Linked DNA regions of Homo sapiens: regions 2, 3, 4 and 5 are each linked to region 1. The links come from fine-mapping of genetic effects on gene expression. A gene starts in region 1. Each other region holds a variant in brackets. All regions are shown on one strand. Distances are between the middles of the regions.

Region 1 (6,091 bases):
ATGACTCACACTCCTTACTCTGCCCCTTATTATCCAATAAATAACAGCGCAGCCAGGCATTTGGGGCCACTATCGGTCTCTGCGTCTTGGTGGTAGTGGTCCCCCAGGCCCAGCTGTCTTTTCTTCTATCTCTTTGTCTTGTGTTTTTATTTCTACGATCTCTCGTCTCCGCACATGGGGAGAAAGACCCACAGACCCTGCAGGGCTGGTCCCTACAGTGGCGCAATCATAGCTCACTGCAGCCTCCAACTCTTGGGCTCAAGCAATCCTCCTGCCTTGGCCTCCTGGGTTGCTGGGACTACAGGCATGCACCACCACGTCTGGCAAAGTTTTAATTTTTTTGTAGAGATTGAGGTCTCACTATGTTGCCCAGGCTGGTCTCATTCTCCCGGGCTCATGCAATCCTCCTGCCTCAGCCTCCCAAGAAGTGGGGATTACAGGTGTTAGCTACCACACCCCACTAAAAAGCTGAGTTCTGTGTTTCACGACAGTGATATTATTTATAGAAGTAGCTGGGGAAGTTATAAATCATGCGACCCCTGGTTACGTGACTCTGGAGCACATATAGAAAAGGAAGCTAAGGGATGGCAGGTCATTCTTCAACCCACGACTGTTCTTTAGCAAAGTTCCAGCACCTTCATGATTCTAACCTTGTCTTATGAATGTGACTTCAGGCCAGGCACAGTGGCTCATGGCTGTAATCCCAGCACCTTAAGAGGCCGAGGTGGGAGGATCACTTGAGGTCAGGAGTTGGAGACCAGCCTGGCCAACATGGTGAAACCTTATCTCTACTAAAAGTACAAAAGTCACCTGGGCATGATGGCGGGCGCCTGTAATCCCAGCTACTCAGGAGGCTGAGGGAGGAGAATCACTTGAACTCAGGAGGTGGAGGTGCCAGTGAGCAGAGATCATGCCATTGCACTCCAGTCTGGGCAACAAGAGTGAAACTCTGTCTCAAAACTAAATAAATAAATAAAAAGTAAATGAATGTGGCTTCAATCTCTCAACAAGGACTGGGGGTCAGTTTTCTTTGTCTCAAAGTTTAACTATGAATTAAATTCCTCTCATGGTAATTTTGGCCTCTGCACTAGAATAAGAAAAAAAAATCTAGCCTGTGAGGTTAGAAACAAGATGGTCAGTCATGTTAGCTTTCTCTCATTACTTACATTTCTGCGAAGGCAGTTTCAAGACCCCCCTTATGAAATTAATCAGCTTCCCCCCACCACCTCCAAATTCATATGTTGGACTTGTAACCCCCAGAACCTCAGAATGTGACTGTATTTGGACATAGGATTCTTTTTCGTTGTTTGCTTTTTGAGACAGGGTCTTGCTTTGTCACCCAGGCTGGAGTGCAGTGGTGTGATCGTGGCTCACTGCAGCCTCAGCCTCCTGGGCTCAAGCGAGCCTCTCACCTCAGCCTCCCGAGTAGCTGGAAGTGCAGGTACATGCTACCATCTCCAGCTAAATTTTTTATGTTTTGTAGAGATCAGGTCTTGTTATGTCACCCAGGCTGGTCTTGAACTCCTAGGCTCAAGAGAGCTTTCCACCTTGGCTTCCCAAAACGCTGGGATTATAGGCATGAGTCATCGCACTCGGCCAGACATAGGCTCTTAAAGGGGTGACTAAGTTAAAGTGGGGTCCTGAGGGTGGCCTGGAATTTGGTTTGATTGGTTTATTTTATTTTATTTTTTTTTGAGATGGAGTCTCGCTTTGTGCCCTAGGCTGGAGTGCAGTGGCGCAGTCTCGGCTCACTGCAAGCTCCGCCTTCCGGGCTCACGCCATTCTCCTGCCTCAGCCTCCGGAGTAGCTGGGACTACAGGCGCCCGCCACCACGCCCAGCTAATTTTTTGTATTTTTAGTTGAGACGGGGTTTCACTGTGTTAGCCAGGATGATCTCGATCTCCTGACCTCAGGATCCGCCCGCCTCGTCTTCCCAAAGGGCTGGGATTACAGGCGTGAGCCACCGCGCCCAGCCTGATTGGTTTTATAAGGAGAGATTAGGGCCTCTGCAAGAGGCTTCAGGAGAAACCAACCCTGCCAACACCTTGATCTTGGACTTCTAGCTTCCAGAAGTGTTAGAAAATAAATTCCTAGCCGGGCGCGGTGGCTCACGCCTGTAATCCCAGCACTTTGGAAGGCCGAGTGGGGTGGATCACGAGTTCAGGAGTTTGAGACCAGCCTGGCCAACATGGTGAAACCCCATCTCTACTAAAAATACAAAAATTAGCCGGGTGTGGTGGTGTGCGCCTGTAATCCCAGCTACTCGGGAGGTTGAGGCAGGAGAATCGCTTGAACCCCGGAGGCGGAGCTTGCCGTGAGCCGAGATCGCGTCACTGCACTCCAGCCTAGGCGACAGAGCGAGATGCTGTCTCAAAAAAAAATAAATAAATAAATAAAATAAAATAAAATAAAAAAGAAAAAGAAATCCTGTTATTTAATTGCACCCAATCCCTGGTACTTGGTTATGGCCGCCCCAGCGGGATGAAACAGCCCTCCCTGCCCCCACGGCTTGCCTGAGCCTGGGTCTGGGGCGTGTGCGCATGCGCGGTGGAGCTTGTGCTCCGGAATCCGGTGCGGAGGCTTGGGCTCCCTGCGCTTAGCGGTGTAGTCGCTGGACAGCTCCTTCAGCCGGAATCTCCGCGGGTGAAGACTGCGGGGATCCTCGGTGCCAAAGCTTCTGTGGTCCTCCTGCTTTCCTTTTCCCCCTGTGGGAGGAGGTCGCGGGCTGGAGGTGTTTCCTCCTGGTCCTGAGCAGGGCCAACCTGGAGGTAAAATGGCCCCTGCGCCTTTAAACAGCCCTCCTCGGCTTGTAGGCCCTGCTTGGTTGCTCCAGCTTTTTCAGCTGTTCCAGAGCTCACCCGGAGCTATTTTCATCCGTGGGATCACGTGGAGGGCTGGGACTTTCCAGGCTTCCTTAGTGATGTCACCCTTCTGTCATTAGGCACCCGAGACCAGTATTCAAAAAAAGAATGTTGTCGTTATATAACTATATTGGAGATAAGTATTCCTCAAAACAGATTAGCTAATCCTCCTATGCATCTGGCTGTCTAATAACCATCATATATAATATCATACTCAAATACCCAGAAAAAGAAATATTGAGGCCAGGCGTGGTGGCTTACGCCTGTAATCCTAGCACTTTGGGAGGCTGAGGCAGGCGGATCATGTGAAGTCAGGAGTTCGAGACCAGCCTGGCCAACATGGTGAAACACCTTCTCTACTAAAAATACAAAAATTAGCTCGGTATGGTGGCGTGTGCCTGTAATCCCAGCTACTACTCGGGAGGCTGAGGCAGGTGCTTCATCCTGGGAGGTGGAGGTTGCAGTGAGCCAGATCCTTAGGGCCAACTCTGGTTCATTTAATGTCCATTTTTAGAAAACCTGTGAGCTCCATTCACAGTGAAGGTTTGAAGCCCAGAAGTGGCCTCCCAACAGGGTACCACATTTCCCAGCACCTTTGCAGCTAGGTGTGGTCATGTGAGCGAGTTATGTGGTCATGTGACCGAGTTCCAGTCAGTGCAATCGGGCATCTGTGGGGAGCACCGCTTCCAAGAGTGGCTCCTAGAAACCTCCCATACTACCCTCCTGCCTACTCTTCCTGAAGCCCAGCACTAAGCGTCATCCCAACTCGATGGGTTTTGAATTTTTTTTTTTTTTTTTTGAGATGGAGTCTTACTCTTTGTCGCCCAGGCTGGTGTGCAGTGGTGCAATCTCGGCTCACTGCAACCTCCGTCTCCTGGGTTCAAGCGATTCTCCTACCTCAGCCTCCCGAGTAGCTGGGAACATAGGCATCTGCCACCACGCCCGGCTAATTATTTTTGTATTTTTAGTAGAGACAGGGTTTCACCATGTTGGCCAGGCTGGCTCGAACTGCTGAACTCAAGTGATCCACCTGCCTCGGCTTCCCAAAGTGCTGGGATTACAGTTGCGAGCCACCGCACCCAGCTTGAATTCTTATTTTTTAAAAATAGATATGAGGCCATAATCCTAGCACTTTGGGAGGCCAAGGCAGGAGTATCACCAATTTTAGAACAGGATTTCACCAGGGGGAAGATGGTCTCCCCTGCTCCCCCTAACGCCAGGCTCACCTCTTCAGTGCCCGCAACTCCAACCATCGCAGGATCTTTTCACTCCTAGACCTGACCATGCCACTGCCCCGCCTGCGGGATAAGGTTCTACACCTCGCAGGAGCTCATGAGGCTCTCCACAGTATAGTTAGTAGTTATAGATGCAGGGTCAAGGAGCTGACAGCATGGACCAAACCCTGGCCCACCACTTCCTAGATAGTGGACCTAGGGAAGGTAACTTACATCCCTGTGCCCCTCAGTGTCCTCACCTGTTAAATGGGGAGAATAAAAGTACCTACCTGGTGGAGCCATCATGAGGGTCACTGAGGAGTGAGGATGACCCTGACTAGCTTCAGCAGAGGGACATGGCGGCCGTGTGTGGCAGATGTGTTCCTGGGGCCCTGCACTGGTGCAGGGAGGAAGAGCCAAGCCCAAAGGAACCATGGTCTCCACACAAAGCCAGTAATGTGGGGATCCCCTGACATACAACATTTACTTTTTTTTTTTGCCTTAAACATTTTATTTGAAATTGAAACACAAATGCACACTAATTTGCCAGTTCTTTAAGGCAGAGCTGTATCAGGAACTCTTAGCTATGAGAAACAAGTCTTTTTTTTTTTTTTTTTTTTTTTTGAGACGGAGTTTTGCTCTTGTTGCCCAGGCTGGAGTGCAATGGCTCGATCTCGGCTCACTGCAACCTCCTCCTCCCGGGTTCAAGCGATTCTCCTGCCTCAACCTCCTGAGTAGCTGGGAGTAACAGGCATGTGCCACTACGCCCGGCTAATTTTGTATTTTTAGTGGAGACGGGGTTTCTCCATGTTGGTCAGGCTGGTCTTGAACTCCCGACCTCAGGTGATCTGCCCGCCTCGGCCTCCCGAAGTGCTGGGATGACAGGCATGAGCCACTGTGCCCGGCTGAAAGCCATGTTTTAGAGTGGCATAATCGCCCTGGGGCTTATTCTTCCCCTACTCCCATGAACAAAAGCCCACAGTTAGGCAGCTGCTGCCCTAGGTTCGCCGGTTTAGGGTCGTCAGGAGAGTTTGTTACTCTTTTTCCTCATCATTACAAGGTGGTGACTTGGCTCCAGCCATCATCTCTAGTCAAGGCAGGAGGAGGGGAGGAGCTGCCACAACCAGGGCTGTCCTTTTTGGTCAGGAAAGATGTTTCTCCAGAAGTCCCCAGCAGCCCCTGTGCTTATGTCCCCTGGGTCTGCCCACACAGGGCTACAGGGCCACTGCTAGCCCCAAGGAGACTCGGAAGGCAATGTTGTCTTCTTGGGCTACAACAAATAGAAACAGAATGCCCAAGAGATTGTGTGCACAAGAGACCATGATGGAGACACAGGAAGAGAGACAGGGAGGCTGAGTCACAGTGACAGACAGCAAAGTAAGCCTGGCACAGACTTGCACGGCAGAGAGCAAAGCCTCGCAGATAGAGAAGGAAGGGGAGAGAGGGCGGGTGGGAGACAAGGGCAGAGGAACCTGATGAGAGAGAAGGGAAGGAGGGAGGGCAGATGTGAGAGGCAGAAACAGAGTGTGAGGGGCAGGGGACAGCTGGGAGCCCTGTGTCCCCCCTGCGGGAGTATCAGGACACCCTGACACTCTCATGCCCGGAAGCTCCTGTTCCACGCTGGGCCCCGGGGTTAGAGGCCTCCTGCTCTGGAAGACCCGAGCCTGGGCCCCGCTCCGCGTGCAGCCGTTTTCCCCAAGCCAGCCCCGTGGTGCCCAGGGCTGGGTGGGTGTTCCAGGCATCCTGCTTGCCTTGTCTGACCATTTCCCGATGGTTTTCCTCTAACATATCATCCCATGTGGGGTGGCTGCAATAATAACAGCCCCCATAGATATCCAGGTCTTAATCGCTGAAACCTTTGATGTGACCTATTTTTTTTTTTTTTTTGAGATGGAGTCTCGCTCTGTCGCCCAGGCTGGAATGCAGTGGCACGATCTCGGGTCACTGCAACCTGTCTCCCAGATTCAAGTGATCCTCCTGCCTCACCCCACTAGTAGCTGGGATTACAGGCACGCG
Region 2 (6,091 bases), 52 kb after region 1:
AAGTGGAAGAGGGTGGCAGGAGAGGAAAGTCAGGGTGAGATGTGGCCACAGAAGAAAGGCACAGAAGGAGGCAATGCCACTTGCTTATTTATTTATTTATTTATTTATTTTTTGAGACAGAGTCTTGCTCTGTCACCCAGGCTGGAGTGCAGTGGCACGATCTTGGCTCACTGCAAGCTCCGCCTCCCGGGTTCACGCCATTCTCCTGCCTCATCCTCCCGAGTAGCTGGGACTACAGGCGCCCGCCACCACGCCCAGCTAATTTTTTGTATTTTTGATAGAGACATGGTTTCACCATGTTAGCCAGGATGGTCTCAATCTCCGGACCTTGTGATCTGCCTGCCTCGGCCTCCCAAAGTGCTGGGATTACAGGCGTGAGCCACCACACCCAGCCACTTGCTTTGAAAACGGAGAAAAGGGGATCTCTAGCAGCTGGAAAAGGCAATTCCTGGATTCTCCCCCAGAGCCCCCAGAAATGAACGCAGACCTGCTGACACCTTGAGTTTAGCCCAGTGCAACCCATTTGAGACTCACGACTCCCAAACTGTAAGACAATAAACTGACACTGTTTTAAGCCACTGCGTTTGTGGTCAATTGTTATGGCAGCAAATGGGAAGCTAACATAGGTGGTGAGGAAAGTTTCGCTGAGGAAGTGATATCTGAGCAAAGCATGGAAGAAAGCAGGGGACTGAGCCAGGCGTGTATCTGGGAAAGAGAGTTTTAGGCTGGGAAAGAAGGTAGTGGCCCAGAGGTGGAAGTGCACCTGGTGGGTGTGGGAAGCCAGGATGGAGCGAGCTGAGGAGGAGCTGTGGATGCGGCTGCAGATGTGATGGGCGGGGGAAGAGAGGAGCAGCAGGAGGGGCCTGGGAGGTTTCCACAAGGCCTGGCTTTGGCCTGTGGTGGTAATACCAGGGGGTTTGGGCAGGGAGTCACAGGACCTGACCTCACCACTGACAGAATAAGCAGCACCACGCTTTGGACATCATCCACAAAGCAATGAACAAGCATTAAATGACTTAAACAGGGGAAGAGAGTGGTCCAATGTATTTGGAGAAGTTAAAAAGCCCTCTGACCACAGGAGAGGCTAGATATACTTTTGAACCCTTATTTTTTTGCTTTTTTTTTTTTGAAGCAAGGTCTTGCTCTGTCACCCCGGCTGGAGTACAGTGGTACAATCACAGTTCACTGCAGCCTTGAACACCCGGGCTCAAGCGATCCTCCTGCCTCAGCCTCTCAAGGAGATAGCACCACAGGCATGCACCACCACACCTGGCTAATTTTTAAAACATTTTTTTGTAGAGATGGGGTCTCGCTATGTTGCCCAGCCTGGTCTCGAACTCCTGGCCTCAAGTGATCCTCCCACGTTGGCCTCCCAACGTGCTGGGATTACAGACGTAAGCCATTGTGCTGGGCCTTGAGCCCTTGTTTTACCATCAGGCATTATTCTCAGATCTGTATGTAAATCGACTCATTTCATCTTCCCAGTCACCCTATGAGGAAGGTGTTACCAGGAGCTGCATGTTACAGTTGAGGCATCCAAGACCTAACGTGGTGAAGGAGCCCACCCGAGGTCCTAGGGCAGGGGCAATTAGGACCAGGTTGTGTCTGCCCCCGACACAACCAGGAAACACATCTACCTCTCCCGGGCAATTTCTCCAGAATTCTCCTGAACAGCTGCTGCACTCTGTTCCAAAGGTTAATGGGAATTAGTTTCTTCTGGTAAAAATGGGCAGGGTGATGGGGACCTACCTGGCCTTTAGCAGGGCTAAGGGCTTCATCCTCCTCTTCCCCTTCGCTGCCCAGGACCCGGGCCGCCTTCCTCCCTGGCCTCTTCACCGGAGAGTCACTCTCGGACACCACTCCATTCCACTCCTTCAGTGCCGCCCTGGAAGGTGGGGAAATGGGGGTGTAAAGGGGCGACTACAGCAGGCAGAGTGGGGGCACTGCCCGCAAACACTTTGGTTTCTTTGCTGTTTCCTTCCCTTCCTTTCAAGCATCCAATGAACATTTTCTGGTTGTCTCCTCAGCAAATCTCATCATTTCATCCATCAGTGCATTAATCCACCCGCCCACTCATCCACTCACCCACCCATCACACATCTCTGGAAGTCTCCAGAGTGCCTGCCCTGTGATGGGTGATGCTGAGGAGCAAATGGAGTCCCTGCCTAAGGTTGCCATTGGTCTCCAGCATCTATTGGGATGCCTTTTTTTTTTTTTTTTTGAGATGGAATCTTGCTCTGTCGCCCAGGCTGGAGTGCAGTGGGCCGAGATCACACCATTGCACTCCAGCCTGGGTGAGAGTGAGACTCCATTTCAAAAAAAAAAGAGTACTGTTGTCTTCTACTTAGATGAGACAGCATCAAGACGTGGCCAGTGGCCAGCGGCCAGCTTCTCTGCATTATGGAGAATGTCTGGTTCTAGAACGAGGCCAAGACCTGCAGAAACAGAGACGTACAGACAACTCCGAGGCCCTGGATCCAGCTGTGCCTGCAGCTGCTCTTGCTCTTGGACTTCTGGCCACCTGGCTGAAAAAGTTTTTTGGGCCCCAAGACATTTTGCATTAGGTTTGAACACTTGCAACCAAGACAATCCTGACTGCTAAAGGAAAAAATTCACCATATCCCAGCCCTGTGACATACTTTGGAGGGGGCTCCGTCTCTCTGCTGCTATTGGATGCCTCCTTCTCAGGCTTCTTTGCTTTACCCTCTTTCTTGGGGTGGAAAAATGACCTAGAGGAGCATAAAAGGGGGTAAAAAAAGGAGAATAACAGCACCAATACCCTGCCTATCTATGCTGTATCCTATAACTTCCTTTTTTTTTTTTTTTTTTGAGACAGAGTCTCGCTCTGTAGCCCAGGCTGGAGTGCAATGGCGCAATCTCAGCTCACTGCAAGCTCCGCCTCCTGGGTGCATGCCATTCTCCTGCCTCAGCCTCCCAAGTAGCTGGAACTACAGGCACCCGCCACCATGCCCAGCTAATTTTTTGTATTTTTAGTAGAGATGGGGT[A/T]TCACCGTGTTAGCCAGGATGGTCTCGATCTCCTGACCTTGTGATCTGCTTGGCCTCCCAATGTGCTGGGATTACAGGCATAAGCCACCGCGCCCGGCCGCATCCTATAACTTCTAACACCATTTCCATCTCAGCACATAACAGAGAATTTCAAATAAGCCCTTTAACTTAACTGATAAGGAAACTCAGACTCAGACAAAGGAGGCAACACTAATTTTTCTGCCCTAACGCACCTGCAAGATATGATACATCCCAAGTTTTATTCAACAAATATTAACTATGCACTTTTTAAATCTTTTTTTTTTAGACAGACTCTCGCTCTGTTGCCCAGGCTAGAGTGCAATGGTGTGATCTCGGCTCACTGCAACTTCTGCCTCCCAGGTTCAAGCGATTCTCCTGCCTCAGCCTCCCGAGTAGCTGGGATTACAGGTGCCCACCACAACGCCCAGCTAATTTTTTTTGTATTTTTGGTAGACACGGGTTTTCTCCATGTTGGCCAGGCCAGTCTCAAACTCCTGACCTTAGGTGATCCACCCACCCTGGCCTCCCAAAGTGTTGGGATTACAGGCATGTGCCCCCGCGCCCAGCCTAAAAAAATTTTTTTTTTTGAGATGGAGTTTTCACTCTTGTTGCCCAAGGGTGGAGTGCAATGGTGCAATCTCGGCTCACTGCAACCTCGGCCTCCCAGTTTCAAGTGTTTCTCCTGCCTCAGCCTCCTGAGTAGCTGAGATTACAGGTGGCCGCCACCACGCCCGGCTAATTTTTTTCATTTAGTAGAGAAGGGGTTTCACCATGTTGGTCAGGCTGGTCTCGAACTCCTGATCTCAGGTGATCCTCCTGCCTCCCAAAGTGCTGGGATTACAGGTGTGAGCCACTGCGCCCGGCCTACCTAAGCACTTATTATGTGCCAGGGCCTGTTCTGGGCCTGAGGGGTTTGGCAGTGACCCAGACACACGAAGTTCCTGCCTTCAAGAAGCTAACACTCTGGTGAAGGGCAGAAATATTAAGCAAACAACTAAATATAAAATGTTGGGGCCTGGCATGGTGGCTCACACCTGTAATCCCAACACTTTGGGAGGCCGAGGTGGGCGGATCACGAGGTCAGGAGATCAAGACCATCCTGGCTAACACGGTGAAACCCTGCTTCTACTAAAAATACAAAAAAAATTAGCTGGGTGTGGTGGCAGGCGCCTGTAGTCCCAGCTACTCAGGAGGCTGAGGCAGGGGAATGGCCTGAACCTGGGAGGCAGAGCTTACAGTGAGCCAAGATCGCGCCACTGCACTCCAGCCTGGGCGACAGAGCAAGACTCTGTCTCAAAAAAAAAAAAAAAAAAAATGTTGGAAGGCGTGAACATTAAAAAAAAAATCTGGTGAAATCTGAATAATAAAGTATGGAGTTCAGTTAAGAGTAATGTACTGACATTAGTATCTCAGTGGTGAGAAACGGATCATAGTAATGTATGATATTGACAATGGAAACTGGCCAAGGGTATACAGGACCTCTCTGTACTGTCTTTGCAACTTTCCTGTACCTCTAAAATTATTCCAGAATAAGAGGTTTATTTAATCTTCAAAAAGAAAAGGAAAAATCATGCAAAAGCCAGTGGACAGAAAGCAATCGAAGGCACCATCAGCCCTGGAGAGACAATCCCCAGATTCCTCATCACGGGAGAAAAACGGAACCCAGCATTTGTGTAAGCCACTACCGCCCAGGTTTCTGGGATGGATGCCCTTGTCTGGGTCTCTCTACCATCCATTTTTTCCTCCTGGTAACAGCCCCTCCGTTTTCCTCTTGGGATGCTTCTTACCCCACATTCTCTCAGTACACACGATTTGAGTGGGCTGGCCCTTTTGCCTGTGACCAGGGGTGGACACGTGATCCAGGCTGCATCCCTGTGGCTGGTTCAGGGATAGGTATGTGGCCCAGGCTGGGCCAGTGAAACTGGGCTCTAACACCCTCTTTCCAAGGGGACCGCTAAGAGGGGAGAGCCCGCCTGAGGGTGAGGACAACCTCAAGGACAGTAGAGCTGAACAATGGAGAGAGACAGATTCCCAGGGAGGAAGTTTTGGCAACTGGATCGAACCAAGCCTGAGGCTGTTTACTCCAGCAGGTTTCAATGATATAAGTCAAGTCATGCCCTTTCTTGTCTTCCTGAAGCCGGACTGCATTAACACGAGGTTTCTCAACCTAGACACTATTGACATGTTGGGCCTGATGGTTCTGTGTTGTTGGGGGGGCTGTCCTATGAATTGAAGGATGTTTAGCAGCATGCCTGGCTTTTAGCCACTAGATGCCAATGGCAAACCCTCTGTCCCTAGGTTGTAACAACCAAAAATATCTCCAGACACTGGCCGGGCGCCGTGGCTCACGCCTGAAATCCCAGCACTCTGGGAGGCCGAGGTGGGCGGATCACGAGGTCAGGAGTTTGAGACCAGCCTGACCAACGTGGTGAAACCCCGTCTCTACTAAAAATACAAAAATTAGCCAGGCGTGGTGGCACGTGCCTATAATCCCAGCTACTCAGGAGGCTGAGGCAGGAGAATCACTTGAACTCATGAGGCGGAGGTTGCAGTGAGCCGAGATTGCGCCACTGTACTCCAGCCTGGGTGACAGAGCAAGACTCCAACTCAAAAAAAAAAAATCTCCAGACGCTGCCAGATGTTCCCTGGGGAGCAAAATTGCTGCTGACTGAGAACCACTGCGTTAGGGTTTCTGCTCCTTGCAACTAAAAACTGTTGTTCAATACACTGTCTTCCATATCCCACGGCTCATTTTCCATACTACTTGACTCCTGGAAATTCCAACTCAAAATCTAACGTAAGAGTTTTTGTTTGTTTGTTTGTTTTTTTAAGTACAGATTTAGAGAAAGAAACAGAGGACTTGGAGAAGGAAAGACTCAGGGGCAAGGGAGGGTGCTCACATGATACTTCGCTGCATGTTGGCGTCAGAATTCTCCCTTCCTGTCCAGCACTTTTCTTCGTCTGTCAGCTGCTCCTGGAACAGAAATCCAAACACTTGTTGAGGTGATTGGTTGTGCAGAGATCTAAACACACATAAAACCCTTTCTTTAAGAAAGAAAGAAAA
Region 3 (4,284 bases), 42 kb after region 1:
CTCCAAAGACTTCTGACCCCAAAATCAGGAGGTGGGGCAGGGCGGAGGAGAGGACCAGAAACTCACTGGAGGTCTTTAGGGGCTTGGGAGGCGTGGTGGGCTGGTCCCCGTCTTCTCCTTCCTTCTCTGTGGCCACTTCAGCCTCTGTGAGGCTTTCTTTCGGGGTCTCCTCTTCTGACGATAGACAGAACGGTCAGATGGCAAAAAAATCCCATTGAACCTACAAGGGCATTTTGACTCTGGAGACAGTCTGCCCTCATCTGTCATCTGTTCTTTTTTTTGAGACAGAGTTTCGTTCTTACCGCCCAGGCTGGAGTGCAATGGTGTGATCTTGGCTCACTGCAACCTCTGCCTCCTGGGTTCATGCGATTCTCCTGCCTCAGCCTCCCGAGTAGCTGGGATGACAGGCGCCCACCACCACATCCAGCTATTTTTTTGTATTTTTAGTAGAGATGGGATTTCACCATGTTGGCCAGGCTGGTCTTGAACTACTGACCTCAGGTGAGCCACCCGCCTTGGCCTCCCAAAGTGCAGGTCTTACAGTTCTATCTTGTGCCAATCCAATGTGCCTGTAAAGCAGTGGGCCACGTAAGACCCTGCTCCTTGTCAACCCCAAGCAAGGCAGCGACCTTGAGGGGGTCCAGCCCGTTTGCCTATGTAGCCGAGACATAAATGGTGTGTCTTTCCTTACCAATGATTCCTTTAGTGTTATTCACCCCAAAATAGAATCTGAAAGGGTTAAAAATGCAAATGACAGCCTGTTATAGACAAAAATAAAAATCTTCAAAGTTAAAAAAAAAATCTTACCTCTAGGGTCACAATACAAACTACAAAAACCAACTTGGGAAAAATCTGCCTTAGTAGAAAGAGGCCACCCCCGCCACCCCTCACTGGACACTGACAGTGGCTAAAAGTGTAGTTTACAATAAAATTTGTACTAAAAATTGTCAATAAGAAATCAAATCTTTTTTTTTTGAGACACAGTCTCCCTCTGTCGCCCAGGCTAGAGTGCAGTGGCACAATCTCGGCTCACTGCAACCTCCACCTCCCAGTTTCAAGGGATTCTCATGCCTCAGCCTCCTGAGTAGCTGGGACTACAGGCGCATGCCACCATACCCAGCTAATTTTTATAATTTTGGTAGGGATGGGGTTTCACCATGTTGGCCAGGCTGGTCTCCAACTCCCGACCTCAAGTGATCCACCCGCTTCGGCCTCCCAAACTGCTGGGAGTACAGGCGTGAGCCACTGCACCTGGCCAAGAAATCAGATCTTAACCAAATTTAAATCTGCCCTGGAAAATGGACCTTTTATTTGTTTGCAGAAACAAAAAACCAAATGACGTTAAAGGCTGCAATTGGTGTAATCTCATGCAGGCCCCAGATGATCAATCGATCAGATCTTTATGGCTGTTTTCGGTGGGTTCACCAACATGCAGGGAACTCACTGGGCGCTGCAAGATATTTTAGATTTTTCAAAGGAAACCCAGCGACACCTGCTGGCCAGTGTGTGAACTACTAGTTCGAGGTATTTCAGTTTTCAGTATTAAATCACATTCCTTGCAATGACATTGCATCTCTGCAAAGCTGGGTTTTCATAGGTTGCTGCTATAAAAATCAAGTACTGTACAAAAATCAACATAGAACAGGAAATGACGTTGGCAGTTTTCAATTGAATTCCACTGTTTAAGATGTTACAGAGTATCCAAGGCATTTCCCACAAGTAATTATGGTTATTTAAGAACAAAATACAGGCTGGGCGCAGTGGCTCACGCCTGTAATCCCAGGGCTTTGTGAGGCCGAGGTGGGCAGATCATGTGAGCTCAGGAGTTCGAGACCAGCTTGGTCAACATAGTGAAACCCTGTCTCTACTAAAAATACAAAAATTAGCTGGGCGTGGTGGTGTGTCTGTAATCCCAGCTACTCGGGAAGCTGAGGTGGGAGAATCGCTTGAGCCTGGGAGGTGGAGACTGCAGTGAGCCCAAACTGTGCCACTGCACTGTAGCCTGAGCGACACAGTGAGACTGTCTCAAAAAAAAAAAAAAAAAAAAAGCACAAATATTACTTTTTTTCCAATGTATGTATAGTATCTAATAGTTGTTTGGACATAACTACTTAATAGAACTGATAAGGTATTGGCCTAGGAGCATCATAAAAAAATTACTAAGACATCAAGGGTGCTGTGAACTAAGAATGTTTGGGAACTGCAACTTTATGGTAAAATTTACAAGGAAAAGGAAATCATTTAGAGGAAAAATAGTTTCCATTAAATAAATATAAAAATAGCAAATAAAAATGGGAAACTGTGCCTGAATTATTACTAAATTAAGATGTCCAAACAAATATATCCCACAATGTTTTCAGAACAAAAGTTCCCATATTGGTAGGTGGAATTCCTGGATGCCTGGACACAGGCATCAAATCGGCAGGGTCCAAACATCCTGAGCTCTCAGGCCCCTG[C/A]CCTTGCAGATCCAAAACACACACACACACACACACACACACACACACACACACACACACACACACACACCTCTCCTTCTGGGGGCTCACCTTCCTCCTCCTCCTTCCTCTTGGCTTCACACACACACACACACACACACACACACACACACCTCTCCTTCTGGGGGCTCACCTTCCTCCTCCTCCTTCCTCTTGGCTTCACACACACACACACACACACACACACACTTCTCTCCTTCTGGGGGCTCACCTTCCTCCTCCTTCTTCCTCTTGGCTTCTCTGTCCTCGTCCTCACTCTGCTCTTCCAGGACTTCCTGAATGGTCCGTTTCGGGAGCTGCTTCCGAGCTGGGGAGGCAAAGGGCTTGGTGTATCTGACCTCGCTGGCTCGTGTGCTCCCATCCCGGAGAGCTCACACCCACTGATGTAGCCTCTGGAAGGCTCTGGGCCCTCTCCCCTTCTCTGCCTGCACACAGTCACTGCCCCAGTGCAGGCCGCACCCTTCAATCCCTCCTGCTTCCTGGCTGTGTGACCTTGGGCAGGTTACTTAATTTCTCTGTGCTTTGCTCTCTCACGACTGCAGAATAGAAATAATCCCCACGAGTAAACAATGATGTAATGTACTTGGCACAGTACCGATTCCAGCAGGTCCCCTGAGCTCCCCACTGCTCCCCTCAGATCTTAACTGCCTCCAAGTGTTCCAGACAGCTTCCCCGGAACCTCAGAAGTCTGGAAGTGGCAGGGAATAAACTAGCCCCAGGAGAGGCCCTCACCCCACGATCGGCAGGAGTTGGTGTATAAATACCCCAGCTGCCTCGCATCTCGGGGGTCACTCTGGAGCATTTACACCGTTCCCCAGAGAATCCCACAAAACTAAGCTCCAGCTGCCCAACACATAGCAGACCCAACAGCACATCCTGTGTTGGCTGCTCCCCTGTCCTGAATCACCCTCTGTTCCCTGCACCTCCTAAACAAACCACTTGCACTTGAATCCCTGTTTCAGAGCTTCAGAACCTGCTTCTAAAAGCCTCTAAACTCAGATACTAACCCATGATGAAGAGCTCACACAAAGGCAGTTGTACCCATCTTCACTGTTATATCTCATGTTGGCCATTGCGCCACCTGGTCCCCGGTCTCCCGGCCCCCAGTGGCTCCTTCACGTGGCCCCAGAGGGACCTTCTATCAGCATGGCTGGCACTGTCTCTCCCTGCTCAAAACCCTTCCATGACTCCACATTCTCTGCTTTATCCAGGATAAAGTCTTTTGATGTCTACCCCGATCCTACCTAATCTCTCTCCATCTGACCTTCTAACCCTTCCCACACCACATACTCCACCTTCTTTTATATCACTGCTAAACTGGGGTGTTTCCAGACACACCAAGCTGTGTCACCCCTCCAGGCCTCAGCATGTGAGGTTTGGGACATAGCTCAATGTTGCTCCCTCTGAACAAGATCCCCTGACACACCCCCAGGGCCAACCTCAGCGTCCACCTGGAGCTCCCAGCATGCCCTCAGCCACACTGTGACTTCCTTATGGCCACCTTTCATTCAGGGATGAACCTGCCTCCCCACCTCACAGCCCTTCCATGGCTCCCAGGACCCACAGCACGAAGCCCAGGCTCCTTAGCTGGGAGTGCAAGACCTTTTGAGATCCAGCCCCCACTCTCCTCTCTAGCTCACCTCTCACCACGTGCTATCCTCAAACTCTCCCTGCTTCCCAGGTCGCATCCGATTCTCCAGAAACAAGGAAGTAGATGAGAGGCCCCAAACATCCCATGCTGTTCCCATCTCGAGGCCTCTGCACGTGCCCTTCTTGTCTGAAATGCATG
Region 4 (6,091 bases), 28 kb before region 1:
CCCACCGAAAAGCATCCCAATGATATGAATAGACATTTCTCAAAAGAAGATATTCCAGTGGCCAAGAAACATATGAAAAAAATGGTCAGCATCACTAATCATTAAAGAAACGCAAATGAAAGCCACAATGAGATACCATCTTACTCCCACAAGAATGGCCATTGATAAAAATTCAAAAAAAACCATAGACGTTGGTGTGGATGCGGTGCAAATGGAACACTCACACACTGCTGGTGGGAATGTAAATTAGTACAACCTCTATGGAAAACAGTATGGAGAGTCCTCAGAGAACTAAAAGTAGATCTACCGTTCGATCCAGCAATCCCACTACTGGGTATCTACCCAAAGGAAAGGCAGCCATTATATGAAAAAGACACTTGTGGGCTGGGTGCAGTGGCTCACGCCTGTAATCCCAACACTTTGGGAGGCTGAGGAGGGGAGATCACTCGAGGTCAGGCGTTCAAGACCAGCCTGGCCAACATGGTGAAACCCCATCTCTACTAAAAATACAAAAATTAGCTGGATGCGGTGGTGCACATCTGTAGTCCCAGCTACTTGGGAGGCTGAGGCAGGAGAATCACTTGAACCCACGAGTTGGAGGTTGCAGTGAGATTGCACCACTGCATTCCAGCCTGGGCAACAGAGCGAGACTCTGCCTCAAAAAAAAAAAAAAAAGACACATGCACATGTATGTTTATAGCAGCACAATTCACAATTGAAAGATATGGAACCAGCCGAGCATGGTGGCTCATGCCTGTAATCCCAGCACTTTGGGAGGCTGAGGCGGGTGGATCATGAGGTCAGGAGATCGAGACTATCCTGGCTAACACCGGTCTCTACTAAAAATACAAAAAAAAAAAAAAAAAAAAAATTAGCTGGGCGCAGTGGTGGGTGCCTGTAGTCCCAGCTACTCAGGAGGCTGGGCCAGGAGAATGGCGTGAACCTGGGAGGCGGAGCTTGCGGTGAGCCGAGATCGCGCCACTGCACTCCAGCTTGGGTGACAGAGTGAGACTGTCTCAAAAAAAAAAAAAGATATGAACCCACCTAAGTGCCCATTGACAAATGAGTGGATACAGAATATGTGGTATATAAACACCATGGAATATGACTCAGCCATAAAAAAGAATAAAATAATGTCTTTTGCAGAAACTTGGATGGAGGCCATCATTCTAAGTAAAGTAACTCAGGAATGTAAAACCAAAAACCATATGTTCTCACTTATAAGTGGGAGCTAAGCTATGGGTACGCAAAGGCATACAGAGTGGCATAACGGACTTCAGAGATTCAGAAAGAGGAGGGTAGGGAGGTGGGGATAAAAAACTACACATTGGGGCCAGGAGTGGTGGGTCATGCCTGTAATCCCGGCACTTTGGGAGGCCGAGGCAGGTGGATCACCTGAGGTCAGGAGTTCGAGACCAGTCTGAGCAACATGGAGAAACCCTGTCTGTACTAAAAAAATACAAAATTAGCCAGGCATGGTGGTGCATGCCTGTAATCCCAGCTACTCGGGAGGTTGAGGCAGGAGAATGGCTTGAACCCAGGAGGTGGAGGTTGCGGTGAGCAGAGATCGCTCCATTGCACTCCAGCCTGGGCAACAAGAGTGAAATTCCGTCTCAAAAAACAAGAACAAAAACAAAAAAACACTACACATTGGGGCCAGGTGTGGTGGCTCATGCCTGTAATCCCAGCACTTTGGGAGGCTGAGGCGGGCAGATTGCTTGAGCTCAGAAGTTCGAGACCAGCCTGACCAACATGGCAAAACCTCATCTCTACTAAAAATATAAAAATTAGCCGGGCATGGTGGTACGTGCCTGTAATTCCACCTACTAGGGAGGCTGAGGCAGGAGAAGCACTTGAACCCAGGATACAGAGGTTGCAGTGAGACGAGATCTTGCTACTGCACTCCAGCCTGGGCAACAGAGTGAGACTGTCACAAAAAACAAAACCAAAAAACTACATATTGAATGCAACATACTCTAAAACATACACTGATGGGTGGACTACAGTCTCAGAATTTACTACTACATAATTCATCGTGTAACAGAAACCACTTGTACCCCAAAAGCTATTGAAGTAAAAATTCAAAAAAAAACAAAAAAATCTTAATATTTAAAAATATTATTACCTAATAGTAGCAGTGTTGATCCTTATAATTAAAATATTGTACATGTTATAACTTTTTACTTGAGACCAAATCAAAATTCAATTTTTCCACATGTGCTGAAAATGCGATAGAAAGCTAAGTCCTGATACACGTCGGTTAGGTCAAGCTTCTGCTTCATCTTTTTCAAATTTTTGAATTGTCAATAAATAAATTTTGTCTGCTTTTTTTTCTTTTTCTTTCTTTCTTTCTTTTTTTTTTTTTTTTTTTTGAGACACAGTCTCGATCTGTTGCCCAGCCTGGAGTATAGTGGTGCGATCTCGGCTCACTGCAACCCCTGCCTCCCGGGTTCGAGCAATTCCCCTGCTTCAGCCTCCCGAGTAGCTGGGGTTACAGGCGCCCGCCACCATGCCCAGTTAATTTTTATATTTTTAGTAGAAACGAGGTTTCACCATGTTGGCTGGGCTGGTCTCGGACTCCTGACCTCAAGTGATCCACCCACCTCAACCTCCCAAAGTGCTGGGATTACAGGCGTGAGCCACTGTGCCCGGCTTGCTTTTTCTTTCTTTCTTTTTTTTTTTTTTTTGAGACGGAGTCTCGCTCTGTCGCCCAGGCTGGAGTGCAGTGGCTCGATCTTGGCTCACCGCAAACTCTGCCTCCCAGGTTCACGCCATTCTCCTGCCTCAGCCTCCCGAGTAGCTGGGACTACAGGCGCCCGCCACTACGCCCGGCTAATTTTTTGTATTTTTTAGTAGAGACGGAGTTTCACCATGTTAGCCAGGATGGTCT[C/T]GATCTCCTGACCTGGTGATCCACCCGCCTCGGCCCCCACAAAGTGCTGGGATTACAGGCGTGAGCCACCGCGCCTGGCCCTGGCTTGCTTTTTCTAACAATACAAGACATAATAAAAATAATATTGACATTTAAGAGGACACTCCCATGTGTCAAGCTTTGCTCTAAGTACTTTACATACATGAGGTCATTTAAACCCCACATCAAATAGTACATAGTCCCAATCTTGTATATTTGATGTATATTTACATTTATTTGATATAAATATACAAGATTGGGGCTATGCACTATTGTATCCATTTTACAAAGGAGAAATTGGGTCACAGAGAATTTTGTTGTTGTTGTTGATTTTCTTTTCTTTTTTTTTTTTTTTTTGTTTGTTTCATTTCTTTTTTTTCTTTTTCTTTTTCTTTTTTCTTTTTTTTTTTTTGAGACTGTGTTTCACTCTTGTTGCCCAGGCTGGAGTGCAATGGTGTGATCTCAGCTCACTGCAACCTCCACCTCCTGGGTTCAAGCGATTCTCCTGCCTCAGCTTCCCGTGTAGCTGGGATTACAGGCATGTACCACCACGCCCGGCTAATTTTGTATTTTTAGTAGAGATGGGGTTTCTCCACGTTGGTCAGGCTGGTCTCAAACTCCTGACCTCAGGTGATCTGCCCACCTCAGCCTCCCAAAGTGCTGAGATTACAGGTGTGAGCCACTGCGCCCGGCCCCTCATTTCTTTATTTTTTAATTTTTTTCACAGAGAATTTAAGCAGCTTTCTAGGGTCACTAACGCATGAGAGGTGGAGCTGGGATGTGGATTCAGGCAGACAGGCTTTGGATCAGAACCACCATACGATTCCCCTATAGATCCCTGTGTCTGCACTCACCAACCAGTTACATAGGTGAGTCACGCATCCTTTCCATGACCCGGTGGCTCTCAGCAAAATGGAGGGGACAACAGCATCCACTTCTTCAGGTCATTCAAAGGGTTAAATGATGAACAGGTAACGAATGCCAATTTTGTGTGTGTGTGTGTGTGTGTGTGTGTGTGTGTGTGTGTGATGGAGTCTTGCTCTGTTGCCCAGACTGGACTGTAGTGGTGTGATCTTAGCTCACTGCAGCCTTTGCCTCCTGGTTTCAAGCGATTCTTGTGCCTCAACCTCCTGAGTAGCTGGGATCACAGGCGTGCACCACCATACTTGGCTAATTTTTGTATTTTTAGTAGAGACGCATTTTCACCATGTTACCCAGCTTGCACTCGAACCCCTGACCTCAAGTGATCTGTCCGCCTGGGCCTCCCAAAGTGCTGGGATTACAGGCATGAGCCACTGCGCCGGGCCAGGCTGCTTGCATCTTGTTGCCCAGGCTGGAGTGCAATGGTGTGATCTCAGCTCACTGCAACCTCCGCCTCCTGGGTTTAAGAGCTTCTCCTCTTGGCACAAGGTCTCCTTGTCTGTTCCATGAGAGGAGAGAGCTGGAGAGCCACAGAAGGCCTTTTGTAGCCAGGCCTGGAAGTAGCAGGCACCAGCTCCACACACCTGTTGGCCAGGATCAGAAACCTGAACTCCTGGCCTCAAATGATCCGCCCGCCTTAGCCTCCCAAGTGTTGCGATTACGGGTGTCAGCCACTGCATCCAGCCAGATTGCTAATGTTTACTGAGTGCCTTTATCTACCAGACACTGTCCTATGTGCTTTTGATGAATTAACTCATTTAATCCTCATAACTACTATTATTATCACCCACATGGCACAGAGGCAGAAACTGAGGCACAGAGAGGTTAGGTAACTTTTCAGAGGTCACAAAGCTCACATGTACCACAGCAACATTCCTTCCAAGGGTGTCTGTACTCTCATCCACTCTGTGGTCTTCCTGGCTGCCCATAATCAATGTTCAGTGTATGAGAATAAATGTCAGGAAATGTGGTTGTTAGAACCATTATACACAGGCCTCTTTTCTGCCACATGCAGGAAAAGTACTGTGAATCTCCTTGCATAAAATATCTCTAGGCTTTGACCTTTCTGTTCCCCAAATACTCACCAAAAATAAGGTGTCCAATGCTTTTAGCATTAGCAACAGCCCTTCTCCATAAACCTGCCAAGAAAATAGCAATAAAATTCAAACATTCTCCATCACATGACTGTCATGTTTGATATTCAAAGCACCAGCAGACTGGCATAAAGCACTGCAGGGATCTGCAGCAGGAAGAAAGATCATTCTTCCATTCCATAAATATTTATGAAGCAATCAGTGGGCACCCGGCACTCTTCTGACTGTTGGAATAGAGCAGTAAACAAGACAGATTTGTCCTCAGGAACCTTCTATGGGTGGAGCCAGCCGGGCACTGTAGACTGGCTACCCCAAGGCCATTTCAAGCTCCCTTCCATGCCAACGTTTCTCAGCCCACAGGCAGGAAGGGCAAATATTTCCCAGCCTCCCTTGCAGCTAGAGGGAGGTCAAGCTCTGGCCCATGCAGATTTATGGGGGCACTTCTGGAAAGTCCTAGCTGTCCTACTATGAAAGAGCAGGACAGCAAACATGTTGGATTAGAGGCATTGCTGGCATACCCCTCCCACTTGGAAGGACAAAACACTGTGTAGAGATTCACACTGTGAACTTTTTTTTCAAGAAGTGATTCAGGAATTAGACAGGAAATCTGAAGGAATCCACAGTCCCTTTGAAGGAAGTGACGGGCTGCAGCCTATACTGTGACTCAAGTGAAGGGCTGCGAGTCCCCAGGGTGTGAGATGGGGAAAGACTGTTTGCAGGACACACGCCCCCACCACACCAGGGAGCCTGAAAGTCCAGTCTCTGGGGTAAGGCCTTAACCCTATTCAGTGCAGGATATGACTTGGGGAGGTTCGTGGAATATAAGTAGGAGCTGTGGGAAGAACCCTGCATGCACTCCCAGATCCCAGTATGGACCCAGGGAAGCCATTCCTTATTGTTCCTCACAGGGCACCCTGCAGTGGTCAGCCAAAAAGTTCAGGTGGGTGGTCGCAGGTTGAAAGAAGCCCCCAGCTGGGTTTCATGAGATAACTGTGGGTGGAGGTGAACTTCTCCACCCACATGGGGTGAATGAAAAGCAAGCTGCAGACACGTGTGCAGGACCCTGGCACATGGCTAGGTGGGATAGATGGGGAGGGGCATGGCCTGAGAGCAGTGGTTGCTATCTCTGCAGGGAAAGCTTATGACTTGGGGGCATTTGCAAGTTCTG
Region 5 (6,091 bases), 72 kb after region 1:
GGCTGGAGTGCAGTGGTGCGATCTCGGCTCACCGCAACGTCCGCCTCCTGGGTTCAAGCGATTCTCCTGCCTCAGCCTCCCAAGTAGCTGGGATTACAGGCATGCACCACCACGCCTGGCTAATTTTGTATTTTTAGTAGAGACCGCGTTTCTCCATGTTGGTCAGGCTGGTCTTGAATTCCCAACCTCAGGTGATCCGCCCACCTCGGCCTCCCAGAGTTCTGGGATTACAGGCATGAGCCACCGCGCCAGGCCATTCTTCCAATTTTTTTTTTTTTTTTGAGAGGTAGGGGTCTCACTAGTCTCACTATGTTGCCCAGGCTGAACTCAAATGATCCTCCCAGCTCAGCCTCCTGAGTAACTGGGACTATAAGCAAGTGCCACTGTGCCTGGCTCTTCCTCCATCTTTAAAGCTAGAAGGTAGCATCTTTCAATCTCTCTCTGACTTTGATCCTCTTACTTCCCTCTTTCCCTTATAAGAACCTTTGTGATGACATTTGGGCCTACCTGGGTAATCCAGACTCTCCCCATCTCAAGACCCTTAATTTCATCACACCCGCAAAGGTCCTCTTGCCATGGAAGGCAGCATATGCACAGTTTCAGTGACTATGATGTGAATATTTTGGGGAACCATGATTCTTGCTACCGCAATGCTCGGAAACAAAGAGTTTTCTTTTTCTTTTTTTCTTTTTTCTTTTTTTTTTTTTTTGCTTTGAGACAGGGTCTCGCTCTGTCACCCCAGGCTGGAGTGCAGTAGTGCGATCTCGGCTCACTGCAATCTCTGCCTCCCGGGTTAAAGCCATTCTCCTTCCTCAGCCTCCCAAGTAGCTGGAATTACAGGTGTAATCCCATTAGCCTATTATTAGCCAGCACGCCTGGCTAATATATATATATATATATTTTTTTAGTAGAGACAGGGTTTCACCATGTTGGCCAGGCTGGTCTCAAACTCCTGATCTCAGGTGATCCGTCCCCCCTCAGCCTCCCAAAGTGCTGGGATTACAGGCGTGAGCCACCATGCCTGGCCAAAAACAAAGTTTTTTCGAAGTAGACTTTTAAAAAATGTAACACACATCCAGAAAAGTACACACATCATATGTGTGAAACTGAATGAATTTTCCCAAAAAAAAAATCAGAGGTAACCAGCACCCAGAACAAGAAACAGAATATGTCCAGTCCCAAGAAACCTCCTGGTGCCCCCTCACAGGGTTAACCACTTAAGGGTAACCACTATCTAGCCTCCTAACGATAGAGGTTAACTTTGCCTGCTGTTGAACTTTATATAAATGGGAATTATATCAGTTTCTCTTTCATGTCTGGCTTCTTTCACTTGGTAGGTTTGTGAGATTCATCCGTGTTGTTGGAGGTTGTAATGGTGTGTTCATTCTTGGTGCTGATTAGTGTTTTATTTTAGGAATATACCACAACTTATTTTCTCACTCTATTGTTGGATATTTAGGTTTCAAGTATTTGGCGAATACACATAGTGCTGCTATGAACATTCTCGTACACAGCTTTAGATGCCCATTTGTCTTGAGTGGCACCACTGGGTCACAGGAGAGACATAAAATTTGCTTTAGTAGATACTGCCATGAAGTTTTCCAAAGTGCTTGTGCCATTTCACGTTCCCATCAGTGATGGGTGAGAGTTCCAGTTGCTCCACGTCCTCATCAACACTTGATGTTATCAGTCTCTTTTGTTTGACCATTCTGCTGATGTGTAGTGGCATTTCCTTAGGGTTTTAATTTGTTATGTCTTTGATGACTAATGAGTTTGAGTCCTTTTTCACGTATACAATGCTTTTAACACACAGAAACATACCTCCCATTGTTTATGGGTGCATAAAAATATACATGGAATGCTAATAGATAATTTTGATAGTGGCTGCCTCTGGGGACAGAGGGAAGGAAGATAATCTGTTAGGGCAGCGTTCACAGAAGGCCTCAACTTTTGATGTTATTGCTAAACCAGAAGCAGATACAGGACTATCTGAAATTTTTTATTTCTAAAAAAAGTTAAGGTAAATACAATAAAACATTCACTCACTTTTGACAGAACTAAGGGTGGTAGGTATAGAATTTTAGTGAACACTTACTGCTTGCCATATTCCAGACACTGTGTAGGTGCTTTACCTATATTAACTCTTTTCATGCTCATGACGATCCTATGAGGAAGGTATGATGAGTAGGACCTTCCTTGTAACCTATGAGGAAACTGAGGCATAGAGACTTGAAGTGACTTGCCCCAGGTCACACAGCTGGCATATTCTTAGGGCCCTCTACTCTTCTCTATGCCTGAAACAATTCTTAGTTTAAAAAAAAAAAAAAGGTGAGTGGAAAGGAAGAAGAGGGCAGCAGAGTGATGTGACCAGGGCGGTGGTGGTTCCTCCCACAGGCCTCCCCAGCCCGGCTGCCCCGCCTTCATCATCGTCAAGCTGAGCCCGCTGCGGGACCGCCTCGTGGTGACGGAGTGCCAGCTGACCCACTCACACCCGGCCTGCCCGCTGGAGTTCGCCTACTACTTCCGCCCGGGCCACCTGCTGGCCAACGCCTGCCTGCCGGTGCGCACCACCAACAAGATCTCCAAGCAGTTCGTGGCCCCAGCCGACGTGCGCCGCCTGCTGTCCTACTGCAAGGGCCGCGACCACGGCGTCCTGGACGCCCTGCACGTGCTCGAGGGCCTCTTCCGCACCGACCCCGAGGCCAAGGTGGGGTCTCGAGAGAGGCAGGCCGGGGGAGGGGGCGGGGGAAAGCCGCGCTGAAGACTCGTGGGTCATTCATGCCTTCATCCGCCCTCTCATCCCTTCACTCCTTTCCTCCATTCATCCGTTCATTCATTCAATAAGTACTTACCGAGGCATTGGGGATGCAGCAGCAAACCAGACCCACGTGGTCTCTGTCCGCAGAGAGCTTACCTTCTAGGGTAGTGCTGCCCAGTAGAACTTTCTTCCAGGATGGAAACGTTCTGTGATTCTGCACCCCCAGCCACAAGTGGCTACTGAGCACTTGAAATGTGTCCAGTACACTGAGGAACTGAATTAATTAATTAATTAATTAATTTTTTTGAGACGGAGTCTCA[C/A]TCTGTCACCCAGGCTGGAGTGCTCTATCACCCAGGCTGGAGTGCAGTGGTGCGATCTGGGTTCACTGCAACCTCCGCCTCCCGGGTTCAAGCGATTCTCCTGTCTCAGCCTTCCGAGTACCTGGGACTACAGGGCGTGCCACCACGCCGGCTAATTTTTTTGTATTTTTAGTAGAGACGGGGTTTCACCATGTTAGCCAGGATGGTCTCGATCTCCTGACCTTGTGATCCGCCCGCCTCGGCCTCCCAAAGTGCTAGGATTACAGGCGAGAGCCACCACGCCCGGCCTGAATTTATTCTAATTAATTGAAATTTAAATAGCCACCTATGGCTATTGGCTGCCTTGCAGAGGTAACTGCCAGAACGCCCCTGCAGTTCTGGCGGGAAAAACCAACAACTGACAAACATGTCCAAATATGATGTAACATCACTAGGGGCTGGCTGGGTGCTAGCAAGAAGGGGAGCCACAGTGATGACAAATGCTATGTAAGTTTTTTTTTTTTAATCTTTTTTTTTTTTGAGACAGGATCTCACTGTCACCCAGGCTGAGTGCAGTGGTGCAGTCATGGCTCACTGCACCCTCGATGTCCCAGGCTCAAGCAATCCTCCCACCTCATTCTCCCGAGCAGCTGGGACAACAGGCGTGCACCACCACACCCAGCTAATTTTTTAGTTTTTGTAGAGATGTTTGGCGGGGGGGGGTCTCCCTATGTTGCCCAGGCTAGTCTTGAACTCCCAGACTGAAGCAGTCCTGCTTCGGCCTCCCAAAGTGCTGGGATTACAGGCATGAGCCACCACGCCAGGCCTACTTAAATTTTTTTTTTTTTAATTGAACTGCACAAACAGAAAATGCACAAATGATAAATACTTAGTTTGATGAATGTTCTCAAGGGGAGAACACACCTGAACCCACCATGCAGATGGAGAATTAGGAGAAGGAAGAGTGCTATGTCCTGTAATGTGATGGAGCGATAAGTTATCATCAAGGAGAAAAAGGCCGGGGCCTGGAGCGGGACAGTTCTAAGGGTGCTGTTTGAATTGGTCAGGGAAGGTCTCTTTAGCAAATGATGGTGAAGCAGAGGAGATGGAACAGAGGCAAGGGACCCTCATTCTGTCATCAGAGGGAAGAGAATTCTAGGCAGAAGGAACAGCCAGTGCAAAGGCCCAGAGGCACGAGCAAGCTTGTGTTGGAGGAACAGTGAGGATGGCTGCTGCTCCATAAGGAATCTCTGCGGCTTTAATCCAACTTCAAGTTTGGGGTGAACTTGAAGTTTAAAGAGGAAAGAAAGATGAGAAAGTAGGGGAAGAACTGGTTTCTCCTCCTGGCTGTGCCTTTGTCTCCCTTGTGTGTGGAAGAGGTCCCAAGGCAGGGTAAAGTCGAGATTCAGCTCTGGCACACTCTTCCTGTCTTCATCTCATGCCCAGTAAGAAGCCCTGATTCAAGCCACCAGCCCAAGCCCAGGCCTCTGTCCCGACATAATAATAATTTTAGCTAATGTTTATCAAGCACTTACTATATGCCAGGCACTACCCTAAGTGCTTTACATACTATAACTCATTTTCATCTCACCTGAGCCCTATGAGGAAATAGTCCACCATTCTCATCCCCATTTTACAGACAAGGAAACTGAAGCACAGAGAAGTCAAGTAACTGGCTCAAAGTCACACAGCTATTTAGTGACAGAGCTGGGCTTCGGACCCACACAGCCTGGATCCAGACCCATGACCTTCACCATGGGGACAAACACACATGCACTTCCTACTCCACTGGTCTTTGCTGATCTAGTAACTCTCCTCCACTACCCACCATGACATAAATAAGCCTCAGCTGTTCTTCCCTGAACCCACCCTCTGCAGGATTGTCCCTGTGCAGAACAGCTCATTCATAGATCAGAGCCTTCCCTGGAAGGGGAGTTGTCTTTTCATTTTGAAGGCTGTCTTGGAATCTCGGCTAAACCACGGTTGGCTCCTGCGTCTGTGTTTTGACCTGCTTTCATACTTTTTTTTTTTTTTTTTTTGAGACGGAGTTTCGCTCTTGTCACCCAGGCTGGAGTGCAATGGCGGAATCTTGGCTCACCGCAACCTCCGCCTCCCGGGTTCAAACGATTCTCCTGCCTCAGCCTCCTGAGTAGCTGGGATTACAGGCATGCGCCACCATGCTAATTTTTGTGTTTTTAGAAGAGACGGGGTTTCTCCATGTTGGTCAGGCTGGTCTTGAACTCCTGACCTCAGGTGATCCCCCCGCCTTGGCCTCCCAAAGTGCTGGGATTACAGGCATGAGCCACCGTGCCCAGCCCCTTAATGCTCTTGAAAGAAAGGAGGAAGAAGTTCTAGGACAGGAGAGACAGATTAGTGAAGCAACATTTAAATATTTACTTTTTGAATATGTCATACATTCACATGGTTCTAAAAAAGGTATGTGGTGAAAAGTCTTATCACATCCTGTCCCCCAGGTCCCCTCCCCTGCAGAGTTATTAGCAGCTTATAAATCATATCTCGCTTTCTATCCTATGGACCAGCACTGCCCGGTGGAACTTTCTACAATGATAGAAATGTTCCTTATCCAGGCTAGGCATGGTTACTCACACCTGTAATCCCAGCACTTTGGGACTCTGAGGCAGATGGATCACCTGATGGCAGGAGTTCGAGACCAGCATGGCCAACATGGCAAAACCTGATCTCTACTAAAAATTCAAAATTAGCCAGGCATGGTGGCAGGTGCCTGTAATCTCAGCTACTCGGGAGGCTGAGGCACAAGAATCGCTTGAACCCAGGAGGCAGAGGTTGCAGTGAGCTGAGATTATGCCACTGTACTCTGGCCTAGGTAACAGAGTGACACTCTTGTCTAAAAAAATAAAAAGAAAGAAAATGGTTCTTATCTGTACTGTCCAATCCAGAGGCCACTGGCCACACATGGCTACAGAATGCTTAATGAGGCCAGTATGACTGAGGAACTGAATTTGTCATTTAATTTATCGAAATGTAAACAACCTAATGTAGCTAGTGGCTTCTG

What was found. PIP is the estimated chance that this variant, and not a neighbour inherited with it, causes the effect.
Region 2: its variant is the best candidate, but not a certain one, in a credible set for the expression of PLA2G4C in whole blood (INTERVAL, PIP 0.52).
Region 3: its variant is the best candidate, but not a certain one, in a credible set for the expression of PLA2G4C in tibial nerve (GTEx, PIP 0.52).
Region 4: its variant is the best candidate, but not a certain one, in a credible set for the expression of PLA2G4C in caudate (GTEx, PIP 0.61).
Region 5: its variant is the best candidate, but not a certain one, in a credible set for the expression of PLA2G4C in monocytes (Quach 2016, PIP 0.90).

Annotation. Positions count from the first base shown.
Region 1 is chr19:48,107,974-48,114,064 of GRCh38, forward strand. PLA2G4C (phospholipase A2 group IVC) reads right to left here and starts at 2,844. Exons shown (of 17, transcript NM_003706.3): 1 at 2,514-2,844. RefSeq lists an enhancer at 2,660-2,819.
Region 2 is chr19:48,159,623-48,165,713 of GRCh38, forward strand. It overlaps LIG1 (DNA ligase 1), which reads right to left. Exons shown (of 28, transcript NM_000234.3): 2 at 5,928-6,001; 3 at 2,640-2,729; 4 at 1,750-1,885. The coding sequence starts at 5,944. Among named protein-coding and RNA genes, the nearest start is that of LIG1, 7.7 kb to the right of the region's middle. The variant A/T (reference allele first, on the strand shown) is at 3,007.
Region 3 is chr19:48,151,166-48,155,449 of GRCh38, forward strand. It overlaps LIG1 (DNA ligase 1), which reads right to left. Exons shown (of 28, transcript NM_000234.3): 6 at 2,707-2,802; 7 at 67-174. LIG1-AS1 (LIG1 antisense RNA 1) reads left to right here. Exons shown (of 3, transcript XR_007067281.1): 3 at 4,177-4,260. Among named protein-coding and RNA genes, the nearest start is that of LIG1-AS1, 7.5 kb to the left of the region's middle. The variant C/A (reference allele first, on the strand shown) is at 2,457.
Region 4 is chr19:48,080,145-48,086,235 of GRCh38, forward strand. PLA2G4C (phospholipase A2 group IVC) reads right to left here. Exons shown (of 17, transcript NM_003706.3): 10 at 4,915-4,968. Among named protein-coding and RNA genes, the nearest start is that of PLA2G4C-AS1, 22 kb to the left of the region's middle. The variant C/T (reference allele first, on the strand shown) is at 2,891.
Region 5 is chr19:48,180,061-48,186,151 of GRCh38, forward strand. It overlaps ZSWIM9 (zinc finger SWIM-type containing 9), which reads left to right. Exons shown (of 4, transcript NM_199341.4): 3 at 2,395-2,707. Among named protein-coding and RNA genes, the nearest start is that of ZSWIM9, 12 kb to the left of the region's middle. The variant C/A (reference allele first, on the strand shown) is at 3,079.